Homo sapiens: one gene and its partners. The protein of the gene in region 3 interacts with the protein of the main gene of each other region in a pairwise test. Each region holds a gene or a part of one and is shown on either strand. Other genes may lie near its edges. The genes, in order: OLR1, SCG5, FBXL17, CLPX, SRBD1, TGFBI and SCPEP1.

Region 1 (5,427 bases), on a different chromosome or scaffold from region 3:
AGTTATTATCTTCTCCATCATTCTAGAATTTAAATAGGCTCTATCCATGAGGTTGGTTTTTTGTTTGTTTGTTTTGTTTGAAATGGAGTCTCGCTCTGTTGCCCAGGCTGGAGTGCAATGGTGCAGTCTCAGCTCACTGCAAATTCCACCTCCCCGGTTCAAGCTATTCTCCTACCTCAGCCTCCTGAGTAGCTGGGATTACAAGCATGTGCCACCACACCCGGCTACTTTTTGTATTTTTAGTAGAGATGGGGTTTCACCATGTTGGCCAGGCTGGTCTTGAACTCCTGACCTCAGGTGGTCCACCCACCTTGGCCTCCCAAAGTGCTGGGATTACAGGTGTGAGCCACCGCACCCGGCCTATCCATGAAGTTATGAAAACAAAAGAAACAAAACAAAACAAAACAAACAAACAAAAAAATGCCTACCAATTGTAATTTTTATTTCATGGCTCTATCCATTGGAAGATGAACAATATACCCCTTTATTTTCATGGTCACTCTTAAAAACATTTTGCCTAAAATGAATCTATATCAAGGCTGTTTGTAGTTGTTATGAAAGAAACTTATAAACCATATTTATTAACCTCATTTCCAACACCCCTGCCCCAATAAACATCAGTTCCGTATTTTAGCACTTACATTGCATGCCCAGCACCATAATGGTCACTACTAATCCCAGGCAAAGGACCCCTAGAGTCGCAGCAGCCAGGCACCACCATGGAGAGTAAAGAAACTGAAGACCTAGAGTGACAGAGGATAGAATCAGAAAGACAAAAAAGAGTGAACAAGTAAGCAAACCATTCCTTGGAGCCTGTCTGTACTTGGTGATTTACTCTGTTTATGTTTTAGTAAATAGACATAAATAGTTTGCATTCCATACCACTAGTCCTCCAAATGGCTCTGCAAATAATTCATCATACACATTTAGGAATGGAAAACAGGGAGAGTTAAGGAATTTAAGTAATTTACCCATGGTCACACAGCCAGTAAATTCAGAGCCAGGATTCGATACCAGATATTTGAATCTAAATATATGATTCTAAAGCTTATACTTTATCTACTTTCCCGACAATTACTCCTCAAGAAACTCACAGTCTAGCTTGGTTGGATCAAATTCATCCACAGTGCAGAGAGCCTGAAGTTTTTAATATACACCACGTGTACACATGTGCACACAAAAGTAACATAAATATCAGACATCAAGCAAACAAGCTTTCTTCAGTTAATCAACTGAGATTACCTCAAATAACTTTATGAATAATTTTATGCTATTCAATTATGAGTCCACCAAAATTACAACCTGGAACTGGGGTTATTAATCAAAGAAAAGTAGGGATGAAACCTTGATATTAATTTAGCTTATATTAACAGCATATCCTACACTCACGCCAAGTGTAGGCTTGATTTTACAAGAGAAATATTCACCATTTTGAAAAAAAAATCACATAGCTCACAGGTGTATGAATATACAATTATGTGTTCCACCACTAAAAAAAAAAAAATCACAGATATTACTGGTTGTGTAGGAAAACATCCCATACAATGTATTTGGTTTCCTCACCTTGTGAGATAAACAAATAAGGTACTCCTATCATTATCCTCTGTATGCAAATAAGGAGACTGAAAGGTTTAGTGACTTGCTTAAGATCACACAGATGCTAAAACCCAAAAATAAGTCTTTAGTCTAATTGTCAGTAGCTACATGACTTGAAATATTATAATACAATTTCCAGTGTGAATGTATAATGATCCAGTCAAGCAGTGGTCAGATATATTCAAAGTTTTCATATGTCAAAGGTAGTGTGTTAGACTCCACAAATGATAAAAAGAAGATAGAAACTTGACAGGGATAAATATGGTTCATCTTCTGATTCAATACTTACTGGCTTCTAGAGTGTGTGTGGCAAGCTAGCAGAGAAGTTGTAGAAGATAGCTGTGTCTCTTGCAAATAATTGCCTAATTCTAGCCTCAGGGGCAAATACCTCTATGTAAATCTTTCAACTCTGTGGTCACTGTTCATTCCACATTGTAGGGCATCAGATACCCTCATCGTGCTCTTTTTTTTTTTTTTTTTTTTGAGGGGGAGCTTGCTCTTCGCCCAGGCTGGAGTGCCATGGCGCCATCTCAGGTCACTGCAACCTCCGCCTCCTGGGTTCGAGTGATTCTCCTGCCTCAGCCTCCTGAGCAGCTGGGATTGCAGCCGCGCACCACCACAGCAGGTTAAATTTTGTATTTTTAGTACAGATGAGGTTTCACCGTGCTGGTCTCGAACTCCTGACCTCATGATCCGCCCACCTCAGCCTCCCAAAGTGCTGGGATTACAGGCGTGAGCCACCGCGCCTGGCCTCATCACTCTTAAATAATGAAAAACTAAATTTTTAGAGGAAAAAGAAAATCACAGGACCCTGTGAAGGAAGGTATGTGTTCCCTTTTTCTATAGATTCTCTTTGTCCTGTGTCCTTGGTAGGCAGAGACCATTAATCCAACTGCTGCCCCTACTAGTGATTTTCCAATCATAAACCAATCCGATTCTTTGCAGTAGGTACCGATCTAACCAAGATTCTGAAAGAAAAATCAATCTCATGATTATTGTAAAATTCAGACCCTCAATATTTACTACACAAATAATGAATGAGTAAAGAAACGAATGACTATTGTTCACTTCTGGTTTTACCTATAAATATCAGCAGTTTTTATAGCAATTTAGTTCATTGGCTCAAATGTTAAATCACTCCATGCTCACACTTATGTTCTCTATTGAGAGAAATTTCTGTTTTGTTTTTGGAAATGTAATTTGGAATTTCTTTATCCAAATTTCTGACAATACTTGTCTCTCTTTCTCTCCTTATATTCTGTTCATTTTCCTCAGAACAGATATAGAATAAAAGGCAATTTACCCAGATTGTCTGTGGAATTGGGATTATGAATTAATTTATAGCTATGCAATTTAATTACTGTATGGGTCAAACAGAACTTACAATTTTTCAAAGCAGTAGTACACAACAAAATGTAACTTATGCTAAACTATACTGAATATCATTTACTTTGCCTGCATAATTCATGAGGTACTTCAGGTTTTTGTAGTGCCTGAAGGACTCTTACAGAAATTATCGTTATATACACCAGATAAATTTGGTTCCCGAGCCCTCCGATGTATAGAATTCTGGATAAATGGGAGTTTGTGGTACAGTCCTAGCTCTACCACTTATTAGCTCCGTGAAACTGGATGATGTTGTTAGTCCTCCTGATGCCCAGTTAGCTCTCTGTAAAAGGGAGATAGTAATAGTACCAATCTCAAAATGTTATTGCGAAGATTCTGAGAAATAATACTCTGAAAGTGAATAACATATAGAATAACCTGTAGTAAATACTCAGTATAAATTGTTATAAATAAGTTGTCATCATCATCATCATTATAGCCTTCTTGTTTTTCTTTTAAGTAAATGGTATTAATTCTATTTTCCCATACTTGGGTGTTTAGCTTTCTAATCCCATTCTTCGGTGAATTTACATTTTGGGGCTAACACTGGGATTCTTTCCCTGTACACATTTTCCCATCCCTAGTACCTTTAGCTTTTTTTCCATTTGACTTCTCATCAGGCTGGTCCTTCACAGTCTGGATCTTTAGGTCATCAAAAGTCATTTCCAAATTCAAGCTAAGAATGAGAGAGTGAAGCAGTCACGAACTTCAACAAACTAAAAATATGTGAGCTTCTGCAGAAGTATTTAAATAGCTACTGTTATCTAATAGAAGAATGACTCAATCATTGGTAGGAGGAAGGAGAGGCTTTGCTTCATATTGGGAAGTTCGCTGACGCAAATTCTTGAGTTATGTGTATTGCAGGTGGAGAAAGTGGTGATTCTGAAGGTGTTTCAGGATATTTCGCTAAGTAATTTATGAAAGGGAAAACTATTTTTCATGAGCATCAGAGGAGAGATATTGTACCCACTCTTCAGAGACAGAAACTGAAATTCAAAGAGAGTAAGTCACACTACATTTGTAAAAAATGTGCCAGAATTATGGGCCAAAATATTTGATTCCAATGTTTGTTTGCTAATTTCATTAGCAGACTGTTTCTATATGGTGTCTTTTACGAATCAGATATATTCTCTTTTGATTTTCACTGTTTTATCTGGCAATGGATCTAAGAATTTTGGGGTGAATCACATATGGCTCCCATTTCCAGCGATGGTGTGTCCTGGGTGATTTTAGAATTTATCTGGGGCTACTAGTTCATGCAGTGCCAGTGTAACGTAGCAGCAGAGAGCACTTTGAATGCAGAAAGAGCTAGTTTCAGTACTTTCCTTTAGTCTACAATCTTGGGAAATCTTAATACTTTGAATCTATGTCTTTGTCTGGAAATTAGGGATAATGTCTACCTGATAACATTGTTATAGGAATTCAAATGACATGTCTGGAAATTAGGGATAATGTCTACCTGATAACATTGTTATAGGAATTCAAATGACATGCTGGGTAAAAATAATAAGCTTTTTTACACTAGGTTTGTGAAAAATGTCACGTTGCTATAGGAATTCAAATGACACGCTGGTTAAAAATGACAAGCTTTGTACTTGGAGCATAATAAGAAGCCAATAAATAATAATTATTAGTATAGTACTAATATTCAGCACAGTTGAATTACCCATCAAATAATGTATTTCAGTAAAATCCATGATTGACTCATGTCACAAAGACGCTTACATGAGAGACCCATAAGTATGTCTATATGTATTTACTGATAGAATACTTTTCTATTTTCCCTTGACAACCTCCTAACCAGATATATATCTATTAGAGATGTCTTCTGAAGGAAGTATTTATAAGCAAAATGATATGATATCTGGCATTTACTTTAAATTACTCCAGGAAAAAAAAGTGCAAAGAAAAGAATACACAAAGGAAGAATGGAAAAATAAATACATAAATAAAACATATAGGAAACTATTAGGAAAAATTACCAATATTGACAGCCTAATTAGGATTCCATTTCCCTCCTCCTCCCTGTTTCCTATATTCCTTTTATTATGTGCAGAGTATTTGAGAACAAATTGAAAAAGTTGGCCAGGTGCAGTGGCTCATGCCTGTAATCTCAGCACTTTGGGAAGCTGAGGGGGGGGGTGGATCACTGAGGTCAGGAGTTCGAGACCAGCCTGGCCAACCTGTTGAAACCCTGTCACCACTAAAAATACAAAAGTTAGCTGGGCCTGGTTGCAAGCCTATAATCCCAGCTATTTGGGAGGTGGAAAATGAAAATGCTTTTCATTTTCAGTGAGCTGAGATTGTGCCACTGTACTCCAGCCTGGGCAACAGAGCGAGACTCCCTTTAAAAAAAAAAAAAAAAAAGAATTAAAAAATACTGAAACGATATCACACTGAAAAGGGCACATTATCATTTCTACAGTGACTCAGTTATTTTGGATG
Region 2 (4,738 bases), on a different chromosome or scaffold from region 3:
CTGGGAACACTGAAATTTCAAAACTAAACTCCCTCCTTTCCTCCTACATTGTTTTAGAGAAATCTTCATTAATGACCACTTTTATTTTTTTCAGCGTCTTGCTTTAACATGCATTGTCAGTTCCCTCTGTCTTCAACATACACACATTTCCTGTCTTAAAACAACAAAGCAACAACATTCCTAAGTTAATTTTGCTTCTTCCAATTTGCATTATTCCATTTCCTTCTTTTTCATAAACAGTTCTGTTTGGAAGAATTGGTTTGTGGAGCCACTTTCAAGCCTAGTAGTAGAGCTTAAACATGTTGAATTAAATAGAAAAACATCTATAGGTTCTCGAATAGGAGACTGAAATAATAAAAGCCTTCTATAAAAGAAGTTATTTTGATGGCATATTAAAGGATGAAGTAAAAGGAGAAGAGACTAACCCTAGACAGGAAGAAAATATGGGGAGTCATTTCAGTTATGATGACTGTGAACACCGTGAAGAAGGGTGAGAATCCAAGACATTTTAAAGGGGGAAAAACTAACTAGAATTGGTATACGGAATAAATATAACATGAAGAAGAAAGAAGAGATATGTCAGGTTCATATGAAATGGACAATATGAACTTTTTCTTTGAATGCATTTTAGAAAGAAAGAAAAGAGAGGAATAGAGGGAGGAAGGACATAAAAAAGAGAAGAGAGAGTGAGGGAAAGAGTAGATTGCGGAGGAGTACTGGGAAGAGATCCACAAGAGGTGATCGAAGCATTGCCAAACAGAAGCAAAAGCCAGGTTCGATAAGGCACAAAGAGAACACATTGAGCCTGCTGTGTTCCAGGCACTGTGCTAGATGCTCAGTATGCAGGAGTCATCAGGACATGGTGCTGGTCTTCAGAGAGCTTATAGTCCCACGGTTGAGATGAATTGCATGAAAATGAAATGAACCCAACTTAGCACCGCTCCACTTCATGTTTCGTCTGTATTCTGAGGGCCAGGGGCAATTATTAGGGAAGATGGAAGACAAGGGTAGAGGAAGATCCAGAACTGAGGACTGGTGTGGCTGATTGGGGTAGTAGCCACAGAGGAAGTCAAAGGCACTAAGGAGGGCAGCACTGAAGTTTCAGGTGGGAAAGTCTTCAGCTTCACCAGTAGGCTAGGAATGAGAGAAAGAAAGGAGGGAGACTGAGTCAAGGTGTGAGTGAAGGCAAGGAGCCCAGTTGGTGGCATGATGAGGTGGGAGGGATGAAAACATCTCTTTTCAGCTCTCTTCATCTCTTCTTGAAAATCTTCACAGATTTCTCTCATCAAATTCCACTCACTTCCAGTGCCCCAGTATGAGGCCAACCACGGTCCTTCATTCTCTGTGCTTCCTTCTCGAAACACTGACTTGAGTTTCTCTCAGTGTTTCCTATTCTTTGTCCACATTAGAGCTAAAGACTAGAATCTAGGATCAAATGTAAAAGGAAAATATTAGAGATCAATGACCAGGAACAATGTTTAGATACCTTTTATCATCTGCAATTATGTGTTTACTTAAACTTAGGTCTCCTTGTTTATTTTCTCATTACTACCTACCAGTAAAACATTGTTTCCTTGGTTTTCACATGGAAGTGGGAATTGAGTATGTCTTGCTTTTCTAAACTGGGAACCACAAACCTTCCTCAGTGCTTATATGGAATGACAGTCTCAAGCTTGTCTTCAGCCCAGCCATCCTTTAAGTTAACAGAGTCATCATCTTTCATGATAGAACAGCACAAAGACCCTGCTTCCTTATCTGCTAATAACGCTTCCTTGTTTTTGACAGTAGCTGGAGCTGAGCTGCATCTTTAACAGTGATTCACATATTACACATTTCAGTGTCTGTCTTGTTTCCTGCATTTCTCTCTTCGTTAGTGCATCAAGACACATTTATTAACGACACATCATATGCCTTCCGGGCCCCGTGTTAGGTAATGGGAATACAAAGATGAATGATAATAGTAATTGTATTACATAATACATAATACTATATAATACAATAGTAAATAGTAATATTTATTGACCACATACTATATGCCAGACTCCTTTCTAAATACTCAGTAATCTTATTCAATCTGCCCATCCTTGTCATTCTCACTTTCCAGATGAGAAAATGCAGGCTTGGGGAGCTGAGGAGCCTGCTCAGCCCACAGAGCTGGGATTTGAACCCCATCATCTGACTCCAGAGTACTTTACAAGCTGAATACATTCCCTATCTTTTCATGGCTCATTGCTCCTAACCTGTCCTGTGTGGTAGTCCTATTGAGTCCTACCGAGGGCTGGCTGCCTTCCAGACAATGTGTGTGACTACACCAGTGGTGACCACACCAATGGCTGGCTCCTGTACATGCCAGCTACCCACTCCCCCTTTACACATTAACTGCTGAGTGTTATTTACTTAAGAAAAAGTTGTCTCAAAAAGCAAATATTTTTCCTTTCCAAATGCTTTCACACCTTTTCATCAGTAGCTGATCACAGCCAGAGCCTGAGCCACGGGGATATGAGGGACCAGACCCCTCCCTGACTTGCTTTGTCATTCCTGACCTTAACATGTTTGATGAGTTGAATGCTCTTCAATGTGGATTTGACTCAGGTTTCCATGTGATTAGACCTGCTTAGTATTTTATGTCCTACTTAGTATTTTACATCAGCAAGCACATGATGTCAGGGAAGTTTGTCTCATGACTGGCAGTGTTCACTTTGTTAAGGTGCTGCCCTCCAGGTTTCTCTGGTGTAAAATTCCCTTAGAAATTAATAGGCCGGGCACAGTGGCTCACACCTGTAATCCCAGCACTTTGGGAGGCCGAGGCAGGCGGATCATGAGGTCAGGAGATCGAGACCATCCTGGCTAACACAGTGAAACCCCGTCTCTACTAAAAATACAAAAAAATTAGCCGGGCGCGGTGGCGGGTGCCTGTAGTCCCAGCTACTTGGGAGGCTGAGGCAGGAGAATGGCGTGAACCCAGGAGGCGGAGCTTGCAGCGAGCCGAGATAGTGCCACTGCAGTCCGGCCTGGGCAAAAGAGCAAGACTCCGTCTCAAAAAAAAAAAAAAAAGAAATTAATAGTTACTCTGTGGGAAGAAGTTTTGGGGCTGTGTAAATATTCTGCTCCTCGTTCAACTTTTAACCAACAAATATAACATCCATTGATGATGCTTACCAGATTCAATAATGATGATAGCTGCAAAATGATGATTTTCTTACTCCGCTATTCTTTCTGCATTTACTAGTTGACATTCTATTCTAAGCAAGAGTTTCCCCTGCTGTTCTATTTATTTATTTATTTATAAATGTGTTTATTTATATAGTATAAGTATGGATTCATGGATTCCATAATGCATATTATTATGTATTCTGGTGTTCAAACTGTCCTAAATTTGGCCAGTGCGAGTCTCCTCAAGCTTTCTTTTCTTTCCTTTTGACAGGACCTCATCATTTTTTTGAGCACTTCTTTATTTTCTGACCTAATTAGCTATTCCATCTTCACCCATCCTTGCACTTTCCTTCCTAGCCCTGGAATTAGACTTTTCTCCAGGAAGCTCCCTGGCTGTATTTAGGAGTGTAATTTGAAACCAGGATCTGGACAGTTGTCCAAAATCTTGATGGCACTATGGAAAGCCCTTTTAATGAACTTGAACCTGCTACTCACATGGAAAACAGGCTCACCACTCCCCAAGGAATCAACAAGGAATGGGCGTGAGGAGAGATAGCTGATTTCTTTTCATTCAATTTGTATGCTTCTCTTACCCATACCATACCTGCCAATGCCTTCAAGTCCATACAATAATAGGGCTAATTAAGAATGTCCCAGACACTTTCATGCAGGGGTAGGGAAGCATTATCCTGCTAATCCTAACCCTAGCTCTTAAGGAGACACAGGGACCATCTTTGAGAGGAAGATTAGCCAGGCCTTTTGCATTTCTTTTTTTTTTTTTTTTTTGAGACGGAGTCTCGCTCTGTCCCCCAGGCTGGAGTGCAGTGGCGCAATCTCAGCTCACTGCAAGCTCTGCCTCCTGGGTTCATGCCATTCTCCTGCCTCAGCCTCCTGAGTAGCTGGGACTACAGGCGCCCGCCACCACGCCCGGCTAATTTTTTGTAGTTTTAGTAGAGACGGGGTTTCACCGTGTTAGCCGGGATGGTCTCGATCTCCTGACCTCGTGATCCTCCCACCTCGGCCTCCCAAAGTGCTGGGGCACATTTCTTTTTGAATGAAGACTCTTATGGGTAGGATCTGCCCCCAAGATCTCCTAAAGAATTAAATGATGCTGGCTTTACCTGGCTGATGGCACAGTGGAACTCTGCCAGAGCTGGCTGACAGTCCCACCCCATGGTAGTAGCTCTCAGGTTCTTCCACACTCCATCCAGCTCAGGCAGCTGAAAACAATGGTACACATGAAGAAGACATGTCCTCACCCCTTCCCGGCCTTCCCAGCTCTAACACCAGCTCTTCGGATATTCTCTGCCTCAGGAGTTTTTACGTTCACAGAAAGGCAACCACAGACTGTAGAGAATGAGCCTCACAGCAATATCCTCATTCCTCAAGGAAATGATCTGCAAGTCTGCCTTTTCTCCCTTCCGATATTAAATTGATTTATTCCCCAAGTGAGCAGGAGATAGAGGCTGTAGCCAGTACTGGTGTTTTTGGTAGTAGAGGCTCCTTCACTCTGGCACCGCCTCCTTGCATAGTTGAGGTTGGGCAAGAGATATGCATTGTAAATTGCAGGTGGGGTAGATTTTAA
Region 3 (3,802 bases):
TTATATCATTAGAAGTGGAAGTCCTGCATTTTAAATTTCTACTTGTTTGAATAATTTAGGACAATGCTTTTCTAGCAGATCTGATTTTTCCCACAAGTCCAGTCTCTTTAGTAGGCCATAAAATGTTTATGATTTGCCCTTGTTTTCTTCCTGGAACCTTTCCCACCTGCTGCCTCTATATAACATACCTTCCTATTAAACTCAGTTACCTCAAGGGCCCTGCTCTTTCCATGCTATCTCATTCCCTCATGCCTTCGCACATACTTTTCTATTTTCCAGGTTGCCTTCCATTCCTTCCCCCAAGCAAAGCTGGTAAATTCCCGCTACTTCTCTAGCCTTCATGAAAATCCTCCTCCTCTGTGGAGCTCTCCCTTCCCAAAGCTGCTGCTCGGCCCTAGATGCGCTCCCCATAATTATGCCCATCATTATATCTATTGTACTCCACTGTTATTGCTAGTGCCCCACAATGTCCCCTTGTTAGGCTGTGAGTAACTTGAGAGTGGGAGTGAGTTCATTTATCTTTAAATTTCCAGTGCCTATACGTATTTGTCACTCAATAAATGTTTTATGAATTTATTTACTTTGGAAAAATAGAATATATGGCTATATAAATGATGACTATTTAGGAAATGGGATTTTAACAACTCATTTGATACGGTTTGGCTGTGTCCTCATCCAAATCTCATCTTCAACTGCAGTTCCCATAATCCCCACGTGTCGTGGGAGGGACCCAGTGGGAGGCAATGGAATCATGGGGGTGGTTTCCCCCATGCCATTCTTGTGATAGTGAGGAAGTTCTCATGATATCTGATGGTTTTACAAGGGGCTTCTCCCTTTGCTTGGTTCTCATTCTTCACTCTCCTGCCACCTTGTGAAAAAGGACTTGTTTGCTTTCCCTTCTGCCACGATTTTAAGTTTTCTGTGAGTCGATTAAACCTCTTTCCTTTATAAATTACCCAGTCTCAGGTATACCCTTTTAGCAGCATGAGAATGGACTAATACACACTTATGTAAATCCTTGAGATTTTAATCTTATCTCTATAATCACCAGCCCAATTAGAACCTCCTAAACTCAGTCTCGTTTATTATTCTGGGTTAGTCAAACCTACATAAGTCTGTAGTGAAACACAGAAATACACAGACCACTGCATGCATCATACCCAACCAGCATTGGGGAGGTCATTTATTGTCTCTAAAATAAAACAAAAGACACAGTGTTTTGTTTCTCTTTTATTGCAACCCACTGCAAGGTCAAAGATTCACGGAAATATAGAAACTACAAACCGGGTGAATTTTCTTTATCCACTCAAAAAGACATTAAAGACAAAGGACCAGAATTTTCCACTACAGCAATATATTTCATAGTCTTTATTCTGAAAATACTGTTGACATTTTGGAGAGAATAAAAAGCCCTGCATTAAACGTGTTCACATGTATTTATGACATTCTAAGCAAAAAAAAGAAACTCTATATTGCCCAGAAAAATTATTTTAAGCCTCATTTCAAAGCATCTAATGAGAACACATTCAACAACCATCACAGGACCACTCAAGGTGATGCTTTTTTCTGGCTGTTTTTTTTTTTTTTTTTTTTTTTTTTTGAGATTAATGCTTTGAGGCTGGATATGGTATTTCTACGGATTTCTACAAATGTACCAAAGCAGTTTTCCAGATTATGTTGCATCAGGCTTTCTGGATTAGTCAACATTTTAGAGAATAAGTGCAAGTCCCCACCCCACCCCCACCCCCCCAAGCTAAAGCATGTTATAGTGCTGTACTTTAGATTCAAACAATGCAACATTTAAAAAAATCAATTATACATTCTGAAACCATTTGACAACCAAACTGTAACACTCCAAAGGTTATTACAACTTTGAACTGAAATGGTACCATCTATATCATAGATGGCTCTCCCTTCTTTTGTCTTTTTTAACTATTTAAAATATAGTATGACATATATAAAAATTAAACTTTTGCATATTCACTCAAGCTACTATTACTATACATACTGTCTTATAAATTAGTTTTGGATTAAAAATCAGTTAAAATATTGTGAAATAAGATATTTCAGTGGTGGGGAAGTGGATATGAAAATGATACAGTTCAATGTGTAAGAAGAAATATAGTTTATTAATGTTAAACAGCTTTTTTCTTACACAAATTTTATTCCCTTCAAATTAAATTAGAAACCCATTTAGTTATGGGAAGAATACTCATGGCGCTTACTGACTAGATTTTCCTAACCGATTGGGATTAAAACAAAAATGCCACATCAGAAACATGTTGACATAATCAAAGGAAACAGTTGTTTACAAAAAAAGAGAATCATTAGAAATCAGTAAATGGCATTCAAATGTAAAGCTATCTTGTTTCTTACAGCTAATGTCATGTTAGCAATGTGAGACTTAAAGAAAGTGAAACTCAAACCTCAGTATATCTGTTAAAGACCAAATAACAGTTATATTCACTCAGGGAAAAATAAATAGCAACTTCACAAGTTAGGGTTTTGTTTCTAGTTCTACTGTGAAAGATAATCACTCTTTAGCTTAAAAAGGCTCCCTGATGTCCTCATTATAAATCTAGACACAGGAACAGTTATTTGAGCCTGAGTCCCTATTATGAATTAATTGTAAAGATGTGTTAAATCAAAACATATATTCATTTACTGATAGGTCTTGTCTTAACTGAAGCTGGCAATCCTTAATTAAACAAAGAAATGCTTATTTCTGACAAGTGTAAACAGAATTTCAATGAACAGATTTTCTAATTTTCTTTCTTAACTCATATATTAGCTAGCAATAGATCTTTGCAGTAGCATGAGAACTAGTCCAAAATGACAACATGCATATATCCAAAAAACCTGTTCAAGAACCCAAAGCAAAGCAAAAAGAGCAACAACAGTAGAAAGATTGTCTACTTATATCTCACTCATGAATCTTCTATTAATGTGACTACCCTCTCGTATCTCAGAAATAGACTTTAATAATTACCAAAATTAAGAAAATAATGAAATGATCTGTAGTTTTTAAAATAACTGCACACCATTAATTACATTGGTGGCTTCAATGCTAAGATTAGTTTCAAATATCATTAAAATATATCCTGACCAGTTACTATCCAGGAAATAAAAGCTAACACAATGTTAACATAAAACCAACTAAAATATTTAGTGCTCAACAGAATGCATTTGTAGAATAATGTATAATTAACTTTCGTGAGCTGGCCAGGAGAGTTCAGACTGTTGCCTCTATATAACAAATTTAGAAAAGGCTTTATTCTTTCTAGTCCCCAAGTCACCCACCAGATAGCAAGTTGGCCACCCGAGGATACACGGAGTTAGGCAGTGCCACAGTGGATAACATGCTACCTTAGTGGCCTGGAAGAAGGCTTCTCTGTCAGGAAACGATCTAGAGTAGATCAGAGCCCTGGTGTAGATGTGCACACGTGTGAATATGTGAGAGAGTGTAAGTGCCTGTACGTATAACATCACTTCTGCTGTAGTCATCATCAGTAGAAGTGCACAATTCATCCCATGTAAAAAGAAGGCCTTCTTACTTGGACATCTCCAAGTGGCAGCAATTAGAAGCTCAAAATAATACATCCAATTTTTTGACTCTATATTAAAAATAATTTTTTTTTAAAGAGAAAGAAGCCTTTGAAGTTAAAAACTAAAAAGTTTGTGGCTTTCATAATCTTTAATTTCTAAGAAAAAAAGCCAGCTCACTTGGGAACAAATGACAACTGCACTTTTGGTATGCAGTATGCAAACAAGACACAAATACACATACTTGAACACACACAGA
Region 4 (4,738 bases), on a different chromosome or scaffold from region 3:
CTGGAGTGCAGTAGCGCGATCTCGGCTCACTGCAACCTCCGTCTCCTGGGTTCAAGCAATTCTTCTGCCTCAGCCTCCTGAGTAAGCTGGGGTTACAGGCGCGCGCCACCACGCCCCACTAATTTTTATATTTTTAGTAGAGACGGGATTTTGCCATGTTCGTCAGGCTGGACTCCAACTCCTGGACCCCAGGAGATCACCCGCCTTGGCCTCCCAAAGTGCTAGGATTACAGGCTTGAGCCACCGCACCCGGACTAGTATTTCTTTTTAAAAACAGTTGTTCTGAAATTTAGAAAGCTTTGTCTGTATGATAAAGTTCTGTAAATAGTGAAACTTAAATTGTCTTTTCTGGTTGCTGCCAGGTAATCTGGTGAAATATACTTTACAGAAACACTTCTCTTTTTTGGCTTTCAGAGCTTCACCTGGGGTTTACAGGCCTCCAAAGGGTCCTTGAATAGAATTCAGAGATTCTGTGAACTTTATTTTCACTAAGCTCTAACTGAAACACAACGTTTCCTTGGCCTATGAATGTGGGCAACACATCCACAGTAGTCTTAGAAGTGTCTGTGGATTTGTCATCAATCAAAATCAGAAATATTTTCATATCACATTATAGTTGCTGATATTTCAGAATATTGTCCATACTTTTTGCTACTTTGAAATCATAGTAATTATTTAAAAAGCTGTTAGATCTTATTTAATTTTGCTTGTTAATAAAGAGGCATATTTTAAAAATTTTTTGATAACTACTTCATTATAATTTGTTTCCTTTGTTATGTATTTTATTTTATACATTTAAAAATATTATTCTGAGAAGATCTATTCAGAGGCTTCACCAGACTGCTTAAGGGGTTCATGGCACAAAAAGTGTTAGAAATCCCAATTACTTTGCTACAGAGCTTTATCATTTTTATGAGGATTTTATGATTGGTGAATGGTCATTTTGATTGATTGCATCTGTCACTCTCCCTCAATTACTTTTTCTTTTTCTTTCTTTCTTTCTTTTTTTTTTTTTTTGAGACGGAGACTCTGTTGCTTAAGCTGGAGTGCAGTGGTGCCATCTCGGTTCACTGCAACCTCTGCTTCCTGGGTTCAAGCGATTCTTCTGCCTCAGCATCCCGGGTAGCTGAGACTACAGGCGCGTGTCACCATGCCCAGCTAATTTTTTGTATTTTTAGTAGAGATGGGGTTGCACCGTATTAGCCAGGATGGTCTCGATCTCCTGACCTTATGATCTGCCCCCCTGGGCCTCCCAAAGTGCTGGGATTACTGGCATGAGTCACTGCACCTGGCCCCCTCAATTACTTTTTCTAAGCCTACTTTTGGGATTGATACTATCTTTATTTATTTATTTATTTATTTATTTATTTATTTATTTATTTATTTTGCGACAGAGCCTCGCTCCGTTGCACAGGCTGGAGTACAGTGGCGCAATCTCGGCTCACTGCAACCTCTGCCTCGTTCAAGTGATTCCCCTGCCTCAGCTTCCCAAGTAGCTGGGATTACAGGCACCTGTCACCACGCCTGGCTACTTTTTGTATCTTTAGTAGAGACAGGGTTTCACCATGTTGGCCAGGCTGGTCTTAAACTCCTAACCTCAAGTGATCCACCCACCTCAACCTCCCAAAGTGCTGGGATTACAGGCGTGAGCCATCACACCTGGCTCCTTCAATTTTTTTATTGTGGTAAGATACATATAAAATTTACAAGACTTAACTATTTTTAGTGTATAGTTCGGTAGTATTAAGTACATTGATACTGTGCAACCATTGCCATCATCTTGTGAAACTGAAGCTCTGTACCCATTACAACAATAACTCTCCATTTTCCCCAACCCCCAGGAACCGCCATTCTACTCACTGACTCTATGATTTTGCCTTCTAAGTACCACGTGTAAGTGGAATAACACAATTTTTTAAAGAACTTTTTTTTTTTTTGAGACAGAGTCTCCCTCTGTTGCCCAGGCTGGAGTGCAGTGGCATGATCTTGGCTCACTGCAACCTCTGCCTCCTGGGTTCAAGCAATTCGCCTGCCTCAGCCTCCTGAGTAGCTGGGATTACAGACGCCTGCTAGCACACCCAGCTAATTTTTGTATTTTTAGTAGAGACAGGGTTTCACCACGTTGGCCAGGCTGGTCTCGAACCCTGGGATTACAGGCATGAGCCACCGCGCCTGACCTTAAAGAACATTTGAAGTTTGTTTCCATTGTTACAGATTTTTTTTTTTTTTTTTGAGATGGAGTCTCGCTATGTCACCCAGGCTGGAGTGCGGTGGCACGACTTCAGTTCGCTGCAAACTTCGCCTCCCGGGTTCAAGCGATTTTCCTGCCTCAGCCTCCCGAGTAGCTGGGATTAAAGGCGCCCACCACCATGCGTGGCCAATTTTTTTTTATTTTTAGTAGAGACGGGGTTTCACCATGTTGGCCAGGCTGGTTTTGAACTCCTGACCTCTAGTGATCCACCCGCCTAGGCCTCCCAAAATGCTAGGATTACAGGGGTGAGCCACCACACCCGGCCCAGATAGTATTCTTATATAATAACAGATGAGTTGCTGTCAGATGTTTATTCTCATTGGTAGAAATAATAAGAATATAGGGCATAAATGGCCTTTTTCAAAATCTTACAGGTGAGGCAGATGTTGAAGTCCATTCAAACTTTGAAAAAGTTATGACGTGGGTGATCTTGCCTTATTTCCAAAGGACACATACAGAAAGAAACACCTTTATTTATTTAGAATCTTTCAGAGGCCCAGACCTGCTGGCCTGTTTTTGAAAGGACTTTGCCTCCGTTGGTGTCATTTTTTTTCTCTCAGTTTATACTACTGTGAAAATGATAGCTTTTTTTCAACCTCCTTTATGCTCAAGGAATTTTTGTTTCCAGGGGATTTATTGAGGCATGTCTATATTTGATGTAGATTTCCTTTTATTTTCAGGTATTTCTGGTGGTCGCATTCATATGTCAGTTTTAGGAAGGCTTGGGACATTTGAAACTCAGATTCTGCAAAGAGCTCCTCTTAGATCCTTTACAGAAACACCAGCATACTTTGCCTCAAAAGATGGGATAAGTAAAGATGGTTCTGGAGATGGAAATAAGGTAATTATTTTATCTTATTGGCATCTGTACACATTGTGAGTTCCCTCCTTTAAAAAAATATAACAGTACTGTCTCTTACTGGCTTATATGTTTTCTGTAGGAAATATGAGATAGCTAAAATGATCTGAATAATTTTATGTAATTAGATGTTTCATTTTGAACCTTAAAATACTTTTATAAGCATTGCACATAGTAAGCAGTAATTAAAATTTCTTACACCCCAAAGTAGTAAAGAAGTGTCATTAAATGACAGTCAGTAGGATTGAATTAGGAATAGCCATCATTTCCTGCTTTCATATAACTCTTATAACCCATGGCAGTATAAACCTCACTTTATCCTCTACCTAAAAATTTCAGATTTGTGGTATAACTTAATGTTGGGCTACTCTGGTAGCCTAAAAATTTCATATTTCTGGTATAACTTTATGTTGTAGCTAGTATAACTTATGTTGGTAGTTGTATTGAGTCAGTGACTTAACAGTTTTTTTCATTACGTGAATTTGACTAACACTTGAGTTAATTTTATATGTTAGACAAAATGTGAGACACTTACATATCCATACTTAACAGTGACTCTGATGTGAGTAAAATTATTCCCATTTTAGAGATGAGAAAAGTTAGATCTAAGAATAGTCAGAGTCACTACCTACCATGATAATAACTCCTGATTCAATTTCATTGAAATGTAGTTTTTTACCCTTAGTAAATTTTCTAGTGCCTGAGTCATTGAATGAAAGCTGTTTATTATATATGTTGGCACATGTTATACAAAGGAGGACTGCAGATATATATGTATTTACTAGAACTGATTTGATTTTTGAAGTAAATAGATCTTCTGACACCAGTAATAGAATTATAAAATATACTAATAATTTCATCCTAGAAATATAGAAGATTATAAAATTAATTACAAACAGTATTGTTTACATTTAAGTTGGTTGCCTGAAACTAATAATTGACACTCTTCCTTTTTTCTCCTTCATAAACGTTAGAAATCAGCAAGTGAGGGAAGTAGTAAGAAATCAGGCTCTGGGAATTCTGGGAAAGGTGGAAACCAGCTGCGCTGTCCTAAATGTGGCGACTTGTGCACACATGTAGAGACCTTTGTATGTAAGTATTACATCTTCTACTGTTCTTTTTTCCCTACATTTTCTGTAAATTACTAAGTGTATAAAAATATGTAAATTATGTAAAATGTATAAATATAGGCCAGGTGCAAACGGCTTATGCCTATAATCCTAGCACTTTGGAAGGAGGAGATGGGAGAATCCCTTGAGCCTAGGAGTTCAAGACCTGCCTGGGCAACATGTTGAGACACCTGTCTTTCCAAAAAAAAAAAAAAAGCCAGGTATGGTGGTGCATACCTGTGGTCTTAGCTACTTCTTTTAAGAAGGTTGAGGCTGCAGTGAGCCATGGTCATGCCACTGTACCCCATCCTGGGTGACAGAGACCCTGTCTCAAAAAAAAGAAATATATATATATAAATTGTATTAAATGTGTAGAAATATGGATTATATGAAATAGATAAATGTATGTGACTTTGTATGTTATATAAATTATATGTAAATTGTATGAGCTTACCTGATTCTCTCTTATGTTCACTATATACTAGAAAATCTTCAGGACTGGTAATACTTTGCACTGTT
Region 5 (4,738 bases), on a different chromosome or scaffold from region 3:
TGTTTTTTGCTTTGAAATTTATTTGCTAGCAATGTTACTGTATATGCCTGTTTTTTTTAATTTTTATACTTTCTATGACATTTAATTTTTGATATGGCTCTTAGAAACACATAGCTAGATTTTGTGGTTTTACTCAATCTGTTATTAATACATTCATATTTGTTGTATTTATTTATATGTTTGGGCTTATTCTTCCTACGTATTTTGCCCCTCCATCATGCTTTCTGATTCTTCTTTTCCTTTTACGCTATTTATTAGATTTATCAGTTAATAAGTTTTCTGTTTCTCTCCTTGTTTTCCCATCTCATCTTTATCTCTCCTTAGTGATTTCAAAGTTGTACATCTTCTATTCTTATGATCATCCTTAAATTGGTTTTGGACTGACCTCTGGAGTTAATAGGTGTCTGTCCTCTTAGAGAAGACTAGAAACAGGATCCTTCCCAATCTTTCTCTCTTCAACTCTCTCTGCCTCCCATGATAAGATGATCTGGGATTTTAGTTTCAGACTCCTCTCCTCTCCTCTCCTCTCCTCTCCTCTCCTCTCCTCTCCTCTCCTCTCCTCTCCTCTCCTCTCCTCTCGTCTCCTCTCGTCTCCTCTCCTCTCCTCTCCTCTCCTCTCCTCTCCTCTCCTCTCCTCTCCCGTCCCCTCCCCTCCCCTCCCCTCCCCTCCCCTCCCCTCCCCTCCTTTTCTCTCACTCTCTCTATATATTTTATACATATATAAAAATATTTTATGTATATTTTTGTTTTTTAACCTATATATACGTATACAGACTATATGCATGTGTATATACGTGTGTATATACATATACACATACACACTATATATACACACTCCTCCATATATATAAAATATATTCTTATAGATGTATATTTTTGTTTTTTAAATGTGTGTATATACACATATACACACTATATGTGTGTATATACATACTATATACACACTATATGTGTGTATATACATACTATATACACACTATATGTGTGTATATACATACTATATACACACTATATGTGTGTATATACATACTATATACACACTATATGTGTGTATATACATACTATATACACACTATATGTGTGTATATACATACTATATACACACTATATGTGTGTATATACATACTATATACACACTATATGTGTGTATATACATACTATATACACACTATATGTGTGTATATACATACTATATACACACTATATGTGTGTATATACATACTATATACACACTATATGTGTGTATATACATACTATATACACACTATATGTGTGTATATACATACTATATACACACTATATGTGTGTATATACATACTATATACACACTATATGTGTGTATATACATACTATATACACACTATATGTGTGTGTATGTACATACTATATAACACTGTGTGTGTACATACTATATACACACTATATGTGTGTGTACATACTATATACACACTATATTGTGTGTACATACTATATACACACTATATGTGTGTGTACATACTATATACACACTATATGTGTGTGTACATACTATATACACACTATGTGTGTGTGTACATACTATATACACACTGTGTGTGTGTACATACTATATACACACTGTGTGTGTGTATATACATACTATATACACACTATGTGTGTGTGTATATACATACTATATACACTATGTGTGTATGTGCATACTATATACACACTATATACACACTATGTGTGTACACACACTATACACACTATGTGTACACACACACTATATACACACTATGTGTGTACACACACTACAGACACTATGTGTGTACACACACTATATACACACTATGTGTGTACACACACACTATATACACACTGTACACACACACTATATACACACTATACATACTACATATATACTATATAGTGTATATGTATATATGTGTATATACACATAATGTATATATATTTACATCATTCATGAGCACTTATTTAATTTAATCAGTTTTTGTGGTTTCTGCACTGTTTCTTGTAGTTCATATCATCATTTTTCTTTGATTTATTGGTTTTTGCTAGAATTAATCCTTAAGAAATTCTTTTAGAGCTTGGTATGGGTTATACTTAAGTCCTTACATACCTGCAAATGATTTCAATTTGCCCTCCTACTTGAATGCTAATTTGACTAGGTATGCGATTCTAAATTCAAAATCATTTTCTCTCAGAAACTTTAAGATATTGTTCCACTATGTTCTGACATCTGATGTTTGCCAGTGAGAAATCTGATGCTAGTCTGATTCCAGATCCTTTTAAAGTAATGTTTTAATTTTCTCTCTTGAAAGCCTTTTAGAATTTTAAAGATTATTTATATTGTAAAGTTTATCCATGATATGTCAAGTATGAGTCTTTTGCTTTTCTTTTCTTTCTTTTTTTTTGAGACAGTCTCTCCCTCTGTTGCCCAAACTGGAGTGCAGTGGCAGGATCTCAGCTCACTGCAACCGCCGCCTGCCAGGTTTAAGTGATTCTCCTGCCTCAGCCTCCCAAGTAGCTGGGACTACAGGCAGGCATGCACCACCACACCCAGCTAATTTTTTTATTTTTGGTACAGACAGGGTTTCATCATGTTGGCCAGGCTGGTCTCGAACTCCTGACCTCAGGTGATCTGCCTGCCTCGGCCTCCCAAAGTGTTGGGATTACAGGTGTGAGCCACTGCGCGAAGCCAAGTATGAGTCTTTTTCTATTCATCCTGTTCTACACTCAATAGATTCTTTTGAGAGCTTGTTTTTCTTAGCTCTGGGAAATATTATTATTTTGTTTCCCTACATTTTCCTCTTTTCTCTCTTAGAATGGCAATTATACAATCAGTTAAGAATGTTTTTGGCTTTAAGTAACAGAAAGCCCTTTTCCCAGTGATTTAAACAAATAAGTGGTAGTTTCTATGAAGTAAAAGGTCAAAATCTGGTTGCTGTTTTCGCATATTTGTATGACAGAGAAGTAAGCACATTTTAATTTGAAGACTTTTCTGCCCAACCTTCCCCTTTTCATAAATGTGGTTTTTTCTGGTTTTATATAGTCAGCAAACTGAAACTTCAGGCCAAATTCAAGGAGTTGCTGTGACATCTTCAGCAGACGTTGAGGTCACAAATGAGAAGCAGGGCAAAAAGAAGAGCAAAACTGCAGTGAATGTTTTACTGAAGCCAAATCCTTTGGACCAAACTTGTATTCATCCAGAATCATATGACATAGCAATGAGGTAAGTCTGAGGCCCATGTGGGAATTCTCCATATGCAGAGTGAGTTCTTTACAGCAAATGGCCTTTGTTTTGGCATAATGGAAACTGAAAAATATGACCGTTTAATGTGACAACATTTTTCAGAAGTTCTGCATTGCTGAGTTATGTGGCACATTATTTCATTTCACTGAGGAATGAAACCATTACTCCTGGAGCATTGTCAAGCTAATAAACCCTGATACTAATGGTGAAGTGTGTGTAATGGAAATTGCATGGCACTCCCCTCTGTTTGTTTTGGAAATTAACAAGACACAATTGACTAGCACCTGGCATAAAACTTGTGCTTTTCTAAAGATAAAACCCTTTTGAAAGTAAACAACCAACTCAGCTTTCTTAATATTATCTTTATTGGTTATTAAAATCTTAAAATCTAAGAAATGATGTACTTTTAGTGAGTATACATTAACAGAATGACATGGGGGAAGTTTTTGAGTAGAAGGGAAGTTTACGGTATAAAAAGAAAAATCTTTTTAACAGCATATTTAATTAGCTTTAAATTTTTTTAATTAGTTCAAAAACAGTGACTTGCTACATAACGACATTTTTTAAAGATTCTTACTGAATTGTATGACAGTGTAACAAATATAGTGAATATTTTAACTTTTATTGAATCTAAAATGAGATTTTTGTTTTAAAATCACTTATATTTGATTATTTTAGTAAATGTCATTAATTTGCTTTCTTTTAAAAATATTTAAAAAGACTATAGTATATTATAGAAAACTTAGAAAAAAGAAGTAAAAAATAATATTCTGTGAACATCCAACTAGTTCCTGGTTTCCCCCAACAGTTTTATGATGAAAAAATTTAGCCATACAGAAAAATTGGAAAAAAAATTTTTACAGTGAATTCCTATATAGCCACACCTAGATGTTATCATTAACATTTTATTCTATCTGTTTTTCCACATATCCATCTACTTATCCATCCATCTTATTTTTTTTTGTCTTGTTTTGTTTTGTTTTGTTTTTGAGACAAGATCTCTCTGTCACCCAGACTGGAGTGCAGTGGTGTGATCTCGGCAACCTCTGCCTCCTGGGTTCAAGTGATTCTTGCGCGTCAACCTCCTAAGTAGCTGGGGTTACAGGTGTGCAGCACCACGGTCTGGCTAATTTTTTGTATTTTTAGTAGAGATAGAGTTTCGCTGTATTGTCCAGGCTGGTTTCAAACTCCTGGACTCAAGTGATCCACCCACCTTGGCCTCCCAAAGAGCTGGGATTACAGGCGTGAGCCACTGCACCTGGCCCATCTTATGTTTTTGATGCATTCCAAAGAAGATTGCAGACAGACATTGGTACACTTTGCACTAAATACTTAAGCATTCATATAATTAACTACAATTTGATAATTCTTTACGATTTTTTTCTTTTGAGGTCACATTTACGTAACAATTAAATTTTAAGTTTATATTAGCTGAATTTTGACAAATACCTACTTCTGTGTAACCAAACTGCTGTTGAGATCAGGAACATTTCTATTATCTGA
Region 6 (4,738 bases), about 28 Mb from region 3:
CAGCCCTAGGAGATGAATGCAATTCTTATGTCCACTTGACTGATAAGGAAGTTGAGGTTCAAAGAGGCTAAATGACTCTCCCAGGGTCCCACAGCTGGAAAGTGGCCACAGGGCCCCAGCTGGTTTTCTAGGGCAGCAGGCAGAAGGCGAGGAGGATCTGGGCCCTGTGGTGCCCCAGCCTCATCTGAGGGTCCTCATCTGAGAGAACAGGATCCTCACAGCATGGGCAGGCTGCAAGTGGTCCCTGAGGTTATCGTGGAGTGGACCCTGACTTGACCTGAGTCTGTTTGGACCCCAGACCTGCTGAACAACCACATCTTGAAGTCAGCTATGTGTGCTGAAGCCATCGTTGCGGGGCTGTCTGTAGAGACCCTGGAGGGCACGACACTGGAGGTGGGCTGCAGCGGGGACATGCTCACTATCAACGGGAAGGCGATCATCTCCAATAAAGACATCCTAGCCACCAACGGGGTGATCCACTACATTGATGAGCTACTCATCCCAGACTCAGGTAGGCCAGGCCTCCGGGGGCCTTGGCCCTGCCTGGCCCACCATCTCTTCTGCCATCCTTTGTGGCGGGGGAGGGGAAATTCAGAGATCTTTGGGCGACTTCCCTGCCTGGACCCAGCTCACAGCTTCTCGGCCACTGCAAATGTGTGGGTTGTGACCAGACTGATGTGTCTTGAGCTTCAGGCTTGCAAGTGCAGTGGAGAGGCAGTGGGGAGCTATTGAAGGGGTCTGGGGACAGACTCAATCACAGAGGCCTTTCAGAAGATCTGCCTGCTGTGCATGGGCAAAGAGGGCCACTTGCTGACCTCAGAGCATGTGCTTTCTCAGTAGTGCCCAAGCTGTCCCATGGTCACTGACCCAGTTAGAATGACTGAATGGACTTTGGCTTGTGTCTCATTAGGAATCCTAGCCCCATTCTAGTCTTCCAGTGAGATCTGTCCATGAGTGAAGGAATCTCACAGGAAAAAACAAAATGCTTCTATGGGTGTGGTTGCTGGCCTTATCTACACCACAGAAGCCATCACACAGACTGTCTTTCTTCCCATTGTTAGAATGTGCCCTGACCAAGCAGCCCACAGGGCCTGGGACAGAGGCTGATCTCTGCCTAACTGAGCTCACCTCTCCTCCCTCTCCTCCTGACTGGTTAGATTTTCTAGGTGACTGTTCCCCTGATGACACAAGCCCGCTGGGCCCCAGCAGTGTTTAGAGGGGTTGTTGACTCACGAGATGACATTCCTGCTGATGTGTGTCATGCCCTGGGGTGGATGAATGATAAATGAAAACAGCGCTTTTAACTTTTGAACCCACTTTCTCCTTCCTTGTAGCCAAGACACTATTTGAATTGGCTGCAGAGTCTGATGTGTCCACAGCCATTGACCTTTTCAGACAAGCCGGCCTCGGCAATCATCTCTCTGGAAGTGAGCGGTTGACCCTCCTGGCTCCCCTGAATTCTGTATTCAAAGGTAACATGGGGAAGGCATCCCTGTTAGATTGTCCCTGGAGGCAGCTTCCCCACCCCTGTCACCTCCACAACACTCTCCGATTTACAGCACCCCATGGGACATTAGAACTTCCACTCAGCTCAACCAAAAGCAGATGTGACTTCAGCAGAAACTTCAGAGGCTCTGTTGTTTCATTAGGCAGTGCAGAGAATGCCTTTGGGGAGCCGTTCCTCAGAACTCAAGACTTGACATCTGGGAGGCAGCCGTTCCTCAGAACTCAAGACTTGACATCTGGGAGAGCAGAGCATTCCCTTGCCTTTCTATTTGCAGGGTCACTTGCCAATGTATAGTCAAGAGGTCAGAGTGAGGGTACAGCTGAGCTGCAGCCCCAGGAAGGCAGAGAAGGGGGCCAAGTTGTGTGCGTGCCTGCCCTTCCCTCTTAGGGCAAAACTCCAAACACCCTTGATTATCTGGATCTTCTTTAATTCTCCATAGAAGATACCAGATGTTAAGGAATATTGGCAGCTTCACTTGGTTTCTCAATCCCTGTTTCCAAACTCAAGGAGGGATGGGCTTTTTCACTGTATTTATCTCTCATCACTCTCTTCATTGCAGGAGCACATCTCTCTGGACCTAACCATCACCCTTTCTTGTAGATGGAACCCCTCCAATTGATGCCCATACAAGGAATTTGCTTCGGAACCACATAATTAAAGACCAGCTGGCCTCTAAGTATCTGTACCATGGACAGACCCTGGAAACTCTGGGCGGCAAAAAACTGAGAGTTTTTGTTTATCGTAATGTAAGTTCTGGGTCCTAAATCATGCTCCTGGGAAGCTCCTTACTGTGGGACTTGTATTAGTGTAAAAAAAAATGTCCTCAATAAGCAGGAGTTTGCATGAGAACTGGTTGCTGACAAGGAAGGAAATAATTTCTGGAAAATATAGATAACAAAATGAGATCCTGCAGAAGGATTGGAATCTCTTTTTCTGGAGGCCTTTGAGAATAAACCACACAATTATCCAACCTGTATTGTGAAGGAATAAGTCCTTCTTGAATTCAGGAATTAACACCTGGGAGGAGGGATGGAGTTCAGACTCTTTCTGAGCTTATGAGAAGAGAAGCCCCCTAAACTAAAATACAGCCCTCCTTGGTCCAAAAGGTGCCTTCTCTCTTCTGCTGTATCTTCTTTGTTTTCAAACCCAACAGTTACCCTGGAAATCAAAAAGGAAGTACAACTCAACATAGCTCTTGCCTGGGACCAACCAGCACCATTTGGCTAAAGATGGTTATCATCTGTTAAACAAAGAAATAAATAAATGGGTTCAACGTATTTATTTCAACATTGTCAATGGACCTCATGTGTAACTGATATTCTCATTATGGGACCTCTGTGTGACTTTATTGGGGCCTCTCTAACCGTTCTTTCCTTAAGGAAGACCATTTATTGTTTTATTTCCTGGAGAAAATACATCATTTTATCCCAGCCTTAATAACCCATCCCAGTGTATACTCCTTCATCTTCATGGATAATGACCCTGCTACATGCTCTGAACAAATCAGGAGGCCCCTCGTGGAAGTATAACCAGTCCTTTCTTTCTCTGTCCCTCTTCTGTGCAGAGCCTCTGCATTGAGAACAGCTGCATCGCGGCCCACGACAAGAGGGGGAGGTACGGGACCCTGTTCACGATGGACCGGGTGCTGACCCCCCCAATGGGGACTGTCATGGATGTCCTGAAGGGAGACAATCGCTTTAGGTAATTAGTTCCATCCCCGGGTGGAGCTTCTGCCCAGTGGTCATGCTGGAGTGGGATGTGGGGCCCCAGCTATTTGTCAAGCTTTCTTCTACCTTGGGGATTCAATTAACACTAGCAGTGCACTGCTGCGACCTTCCAGACTTGGGATGGGGAAAAGGCAAGGGTCGCCTTGAAAGCTTACATTGGGAAGAAGGGTTACTTCTAAGAGTGTAATCTTCACATGCATGGGAAGCAGGGAGGGGGGACTACATTTTTATGACTGAAGTGCAAGGAAAACATCACCCTCTCATTGTAAAGCTCCAAGTGAGCCAAGAGCACATAGTTTACAGTGCACGATGAGCCTCTCACTCTCTGCGCAGTATCTGTTTATTGCAACTGAAGCACCCTTGTGAGTTTGTTTTCTTGCCCGGCTATCTCCATTTCTGACTTGCTCATTCACCTTGGGGTGCTGTCATATTGAATGTTTCCCTGTCACTGACTTCAGCCACCTGCACAAGGGCTTGGAGACCACACCCCTCTGCCCTCCCAGAATCATATCCCTGGAGGCTCAGCTAGTCTCTGGGTCAGCCATACCTCTGCCCTTTCTTTTCCCTCCTTTCTCCTGTGGCCTCTGACGTCTGGCCATTTAACAGAGCTTAGCATTTTTGCTGGGTGGAGAGAGCTGGAGCCTGGAATCACTCCCTCTTTGTGCATACGGAGGGCATGAAAACCAAGGTGTGTGCATTCCAGTGGCCTGGACTCTACTATCCTCAGTGGTGAGGTATTTAAGGAAAATACCTCTCAGCGTGGTGAGGTATTTAAGGAAAATACCTGTTGACAGGTGACATTTTCTGTGTGTGTATCTACAGCATGCTGGTAGCTGCCATCCAGTCTGCAGGACTGACGGAGACCCTCAACCGGGAAGGAGTCTACACAGTCTTTGCTCCCACAAATGAAGCCTTCCGAGCCCTGCCACCAAGAGAACGGAGCAGACTCTTGGGTAAAGACCAACTTAAGTACACGTCTCCATTTTTCTAAAGTAGTGATCCCTCAGGGCCCCAGCAGCAAACAGTTGGCACATCAAGGATTGACTTGAAGGGATTTTATGACAAGACTATTAGTGAAAGAGTGGGCGGGACTAAAGGAACTAGCAAAGGATGAGGCCAACCAGGGACTAGCAACCCTGGGAAGCCTTTACTACCCCTAGGCCTGGGGGAATGGGAGGATGAGAGCAGGAACCAGGGAGGTCATGAGCCTTGGACAAGGGCACAGAACAGCAGCCAGAGCCATGTGCAGCCAGCCACTGTCAGAACCATGCAAGGGGGACCACTCAGCGCCCCAGCCTCCCTCTCAGACAGTTGCCATCTGGGTCTCTTGTTGGCTGATGCGAGAGCAGGAGGGAGCCCACTGATGCAGTTCATAGAGCTCAGCCTCCTGGGCAGGAAACCGGGCAGAGAGGAGTAGAAAAGAATTAAGGGTGGCTGCGACCAGCCCAGTCACTGAGGCACGTTTCCCACTGGAGACCTATGAGCACAGTGATAATAAAGCCAG
Region 7 (3,807 bases), on a different chromosome or scaffold from region 3:
TGATCTGCCCGCCTTGGCCTCCCGAAGTGCTGGGATTACAGGCTGGAGCCACCGTGCCTGGCTGTTTTTTTAAATCTCAGCCTTTGGCCAGGCTTGGTGACTCATGCCTGTAATCCCAGCACTTTGGGAGCCCAAGGCAGGTGGATTGCTAGAGCCTGGGAGTTCGAGACCAGCCTGGGCCACATAGTGAGACTCCAACTCTACGAAAAAATTTTAAAAATTAGCTGGATGTGATGGTGCTTGCCTGTGGTACTAGCTACTTGGGAGGCTGGGGCAGGAGGATCATTTGAGGCATGATTGTGCCACTGCACTCTAGCCTGGGTCACAGAGTCTCAATAAATAAATAAATAAAATCTCAGCCCTGCAACTACAAGAGGTGATATTTCTTTCAGACAGTCCTAGAAGCTGTTAGATCCCCTATGCAGATTTTTTTTTCTTTTTGAGATGGGGTCTCTGTCACCCAGGCTGGAGTGAGTGGCTTGATCATGGCTCACTGCAACATCAACCTCCCTGGCTCAAGTGATCCTCCTGCCTCAGCCTCCTGAGTAGCTGGGACTACAGGTGTGTGCCACCATGCTCGGCTAATGTTTTTATTTTTTTTGTAGAAATGGGGTCTCCCTATGTTGCCCAGGCTGTTGTTGAACTCCTGGGCTCAAGCATTCCTCCTGCCTCGACCTCCCAAAGTGCTGGGTTTATAGGTGTGAGCCACGGCATCAAACCTCCTTATGTAGATCTTGAGCTATGAATAAAAAGTTAAAAGTCCTGAGCTAATTATTTTGATTTTAAGGAAATGTGGCAATCCTCTGACTAAATAATTACACTTTTATGAATTTATTCTAAGAAAATAAGGAGGTACAAAAAAATCTAACTATCAGGGTGAATCAACAGAGCACTATGTATAATAGCAACAAACTAGAAATTATTATACTTGTCGGAAACAACTGGGAATTTTGTAAATAAACTAGAGTACAACCATAAAGTAGAATGCTCCACAGCCATTAAAAATGTTAGAGAAGAACATTTATTGACATGAAAAGGTGTTTCAGATATACTGATATGTCAAACAAATAGTAAAACAACATAGAGTAATGATTCATTTTGGTAAAAAATATATATGTATATATAGAAAAAAAAATTCTGCAAGGACATATGCTAAATTGGTAACAGTGCTTACCCCTGGGAAGGGGGTATACAGATGTTGATTTACTCTTTGGGTACCTGTATTTCCCAGTTTTTCTATAAATCACATCATTTGCTTCTGTCATAAGAAAAAATAATATCTATTATCATCCTTTATTTTGATCAAAACAAATCAATTTTTTAAAAAATCTTAGGTTTTTTTAAGAAGCAGAAATAATTTCCAAATTGCCTCCAGAGACAATGATTTTATCCTCTGCAGAAGCTGGTCAGAACCTTCTTGATCACAGCCCCAGTTAGATACAGGGAAGAATGGCGCTTCCTACAGCTTCAGCGGCCTCAGCTCAGCTCTGTGCCCCAAGGCCAAACCAGCTCATCTCCAGCCCCATCCATCCTATTCTTGCTGAGTCACCAGTCTCATCATCTTCAGAGCCATGTCCCCTTGGTCAGAAGGAACCTAGAAAAAAACAACATCTGAGTTAGTGCTCCTGGTGCTATTCCTGGGGCTGGGGTCAGAGGCAACATCCTGAAACCTTGCTCCCAAAAGGGAGCCAGCTCTGTGACAGCAACCTGTGCAGACACCTGGGCACATCCCTGAGAGAGGGTCCTTCCTGAAAATGACTCCTGCACTGGATGAAAGCTCTTCTGGGCCCTGACTGGGCTGGGTGGCAGGGACCTGGAGAAGTCAGCATTTAAGACAAGAACCTTCTACTCCATTTGGAGCTGATCTGTTGATTTCTTGGTAAGGGTCATGCTAATGATACTAGACCTAGCCTGTTCAAGGAAGAAGGAAGATTCTAAACATTTTAAAGGCATCTGTCTAGAAGGGATCCCGGATTGAGAATAGAGAAATGGCTGAGAAGGGAGCTCACAGCAGAGAGCCGCAAATAATAAAAACAAACAGGGCCCTTTGGGTGGCATCCGATTTTCGCAGTTATTCAACTTTCTTTTGTTTTCCCTCAGATTTTTAGAATAAGTCCTTTAAAATTTCCTTCCCACACAGCATCAAAAGGGGGAAGGGCAGAGGCCTCAGTTTCTCCCTACACAGAAGGGGTTGGAGTATATGGTCTCCCCGTTATGTAATTCCCTGGCTCCATGATTCTCTATGGCACACCCATCCTTGACTCTTCTGCCAAGAGTCCCCAGGAGGCACAGGCAAGGTGGGTTATCCTAAAATGTCATTTAATCAATGAAAGGGGAAGTGGTTTGGGGACGACTTAACAACAGTCTCCAAGGGCTATTTTAAGCCTGTCCCCAACTGATCTGTTGTTCTATATGTGACAAACCAACAGGAAATGGGCCTGAACTCTAGTATACAGAGCGCGTGGTTGGCTTGTTCCATGCCTTCCTACCAGCCTCGTCAGGGACTTCTCTCTAGGGCAGGCTGAGCATCCCTCATTGGAAAATCCAAAATGCTCCACAATTCCAGCCTTTTTGAGTGCCACCATGAGGCCACAAGTGGAACATTTCACACCTGCCCCATGGGCGGCTGCATTCAAAATGCAGGCGCACAACACACAGTTTATTTCTGCATCCCCAAGGGGGTTACAGTACAGTAACCTTTTAATCAAAACACAGCATTGTAGGTAGAGACCGAAAGCTGCTGTTGCTTGCTGTTGCTGTTGTCTAGCAGCTGACACAGGTATTCTGGTCATGCTACTGTGCTGCTCAGTTACTCTGAACACACAACTTTTCCACTGTATTAATGGTATGTTGTATTTCTTACTGTGAAGTACTTATGTGTGACTACATGCAAGAAAAAGATTGCTTATCGGCAGCATATAAATTTGGAGTCAGAAATGATATGATGCCTAACAACCACAGATTGGTTGAAGAGCCATGGGTGGCTGAAATAGCCACCCTTTGCTCTCTAATAACTCAGTGCACACAAACTTTGCTTCATGCACAAAATTATTTAAAATATTGTACGAAAGTACCTTCGGTCTATGTGTATAAGGTGTATATGAAACATAAATGAATTCCATTGCCTAGACTTGGGTCCCATCCCCAAGATATCTCATTATGGATATGCAAATATTCCAAAATAAAAAAAAAATTAAAAATCTGAAACATTTCTGGTTCCAAACATCTCAGATAAGGGGTACTCAACCTGTAACAGTGCTTGCTCTAAGACGTTCTAATTTTCTTTCTTTTAGTCAATATTGAAGGTACTCAGATCCTGAGAGCCATAAATAATGCCCTCTCCCTCTGTGCCCTGCTGCCTTGTTTGTTCTCCCTTTAGATTAAGTCTATTTGTTTATTTATTGATTTACTTTTTGAGACAGAGTCTCACTCTGTCACCCAAGCTTTCAGGCTCAATCAATCCTCCCACCTCACTCAGCCTCCAGAGCAGCTGAGACCACAGGCAGGCGCCACCGCGCCCAGTTGATTTTTGTTCTTTTTTGAGACAGAGTCTCACTCTGTTGCCCAGGCTGGAGTGCAGTGGCGCTATCTCGCCAGCTGGATGCAATGGCACTATCTTGGCTCACTGCAACCTCTGCCTCCCAGGTTCAAGCGATTCTCCTGCCTCAGCCTCCTGAGTAGCTGGGATTACAGGTGCCCACCATCATGCCCAGCTAATTTTTGTATTTTTAGTAAAGATAGGGTTTCTCCATGTTAGCCAAGCTGGTCTCATACTCCTGACCTCAGGTGATCCACCTGCCTTCGCCT

Evidence for each region.
Region 1: the proteins of FBXL17 (region 3) and OLR1 interact in a two-hybrid assay, tested with the Homo sapiens proteins (one large-scale study listed by BioGRID).
Region 2: the proteins of FBXL17 (region 3) and SCG5 interact in a two-hybrid assay, tested with the Homo sapiens proteins (one large-scale study listed by BioGRID).
Region 4: the proteins of FBXL17 (region 3) and CLPX interact in a two-hybrid assay, tested with the Homo sapiens proteins (one large-scale study listed by BioGRID).
Region 5: the proteins of FBXL17 (region 3) and SRBD1 interact in a two-hybrid assay, tested with the Homo sapiens proteins (one large-scale study listed by BioGRID).
Region 6: the proteins of FBXL17 (region 3) and TGFBI interact in a two-hybrid assay, tested with the Homo sapiens proteins (one large-scale study listed by BioGRID).
Region 7: the proteins of FBXL17 (region 3) and SCPEP1 interact in a two-hybrid assay, tested with the Homo sapiens proteins (one large-scale study listed by BioGRID).

What each region holds. Positions count from the first base shown.
Region 1 is NC_000012.12:10,168,433-10,173,859, forward strand, and holds the start of OLR1 (oxidized low-density lipoprotein receptor 1), read right to left. Parts: upstream 3,701-5,427; 5' UTR 3,646-3,700; coding exon 3,570-3,645; intron 2,565-3,569; exon of another isoform or gene 1,886-2,564; intron 744-1,885; coding exon 642-743; intron 1-641. UniProt on the Homo sapiens protein: Receptor that mediates the recognition, internalization and degradation of oxidatively modified low density lipoprotein (oxLDL) by vascular endothelial cells.
Region 2 is NC_000015.10:32,685,921-32,690,658, forward strand, and holds part of SCG5 (neuroendocrine protein 7B2 isoform 1 precursor), read left to right. Parts: intron 1-941; exon of another isoform or gene 942-1,425; intron 1,426-4,274; exon of another isoform or gene 4,275-4,343; intron 4,344-4,738. UniProt on the Homo sapiens protein: Acts as a molecular chaperone for PCSK2/PC2, preventing its premature activation in the regulated secretory pathway.
Region 3 is NC_000005.10:107,857,818-107,861,619, forward strand, and holds the end of FBXL17 (F-box/LRR-repeat protein 17), read right to left. Parts: 3' UTR 1,218-3,802; downstream 1-1,217. UniProt on the Homo sapiens protein: Substrate-recognition component of the SCF(FBXL17) E3 ubiquitin ligase complex, a key component of a quality control pathway required to ensure functional dimerization of BTB domain-containing proteins (dimerization quality control, DQC).
Region 4 is NC_000015.10:65,178,398-65,183,135, reverse strand, and holds part of CLPX (ATP-dependent clpX-like chaperone, mitochondrial precursor), read left to right. Parts: intron 1-2,931; coding exon 2,932-3,092; intron 3,093-4,084; coding exon 4,085-4,202; intron 4,203-4,738. UniProt on the Homo sapiens protein: ATP-dependent chaperone that functions as an unfoldase.
Region 5 is NC_000002.12:45,411,590-45,416,327, reverse strand, and holds part of SRBD1 (S1 RNA-binding domain-containing protein 1), read left to right. Parts: intron 1-3,034; coding exon 3,035-3,214; intron 3,215-4,738.
Region 6 is NC_000005.10:136,052,609-136,057,346, forward strand, and holds part of TGFBI (transforming growth factor-beta-induced protein ig-h3 precursor), read left to right. Parts: intron 1-298; coding exon 299-511; intron 512-1,334; coding exon 1,335-1,472; intron 1,473-2,107; coding exon 2,108-2,253; intron 2,254-3,071; coding exon 3,072-3,208; intron 3,209-4,056; coding exon 4,057-4,187; intron 4,188-4,738.
Region 7 is NC_000017.11:57,003,960-57,007,766, reverse strand, and holds the end of SCPEP1 (retinoid-inducible serine carboxypeptidase precursor), read right to left. Parts: intron 1,595-3,807; coding exon 1,532-1,594; 3' UTR 999-1,531; downstream 1-998. UniProt on the Homo sapiens protein: May be involved in vascular wall and kidney homeostasis.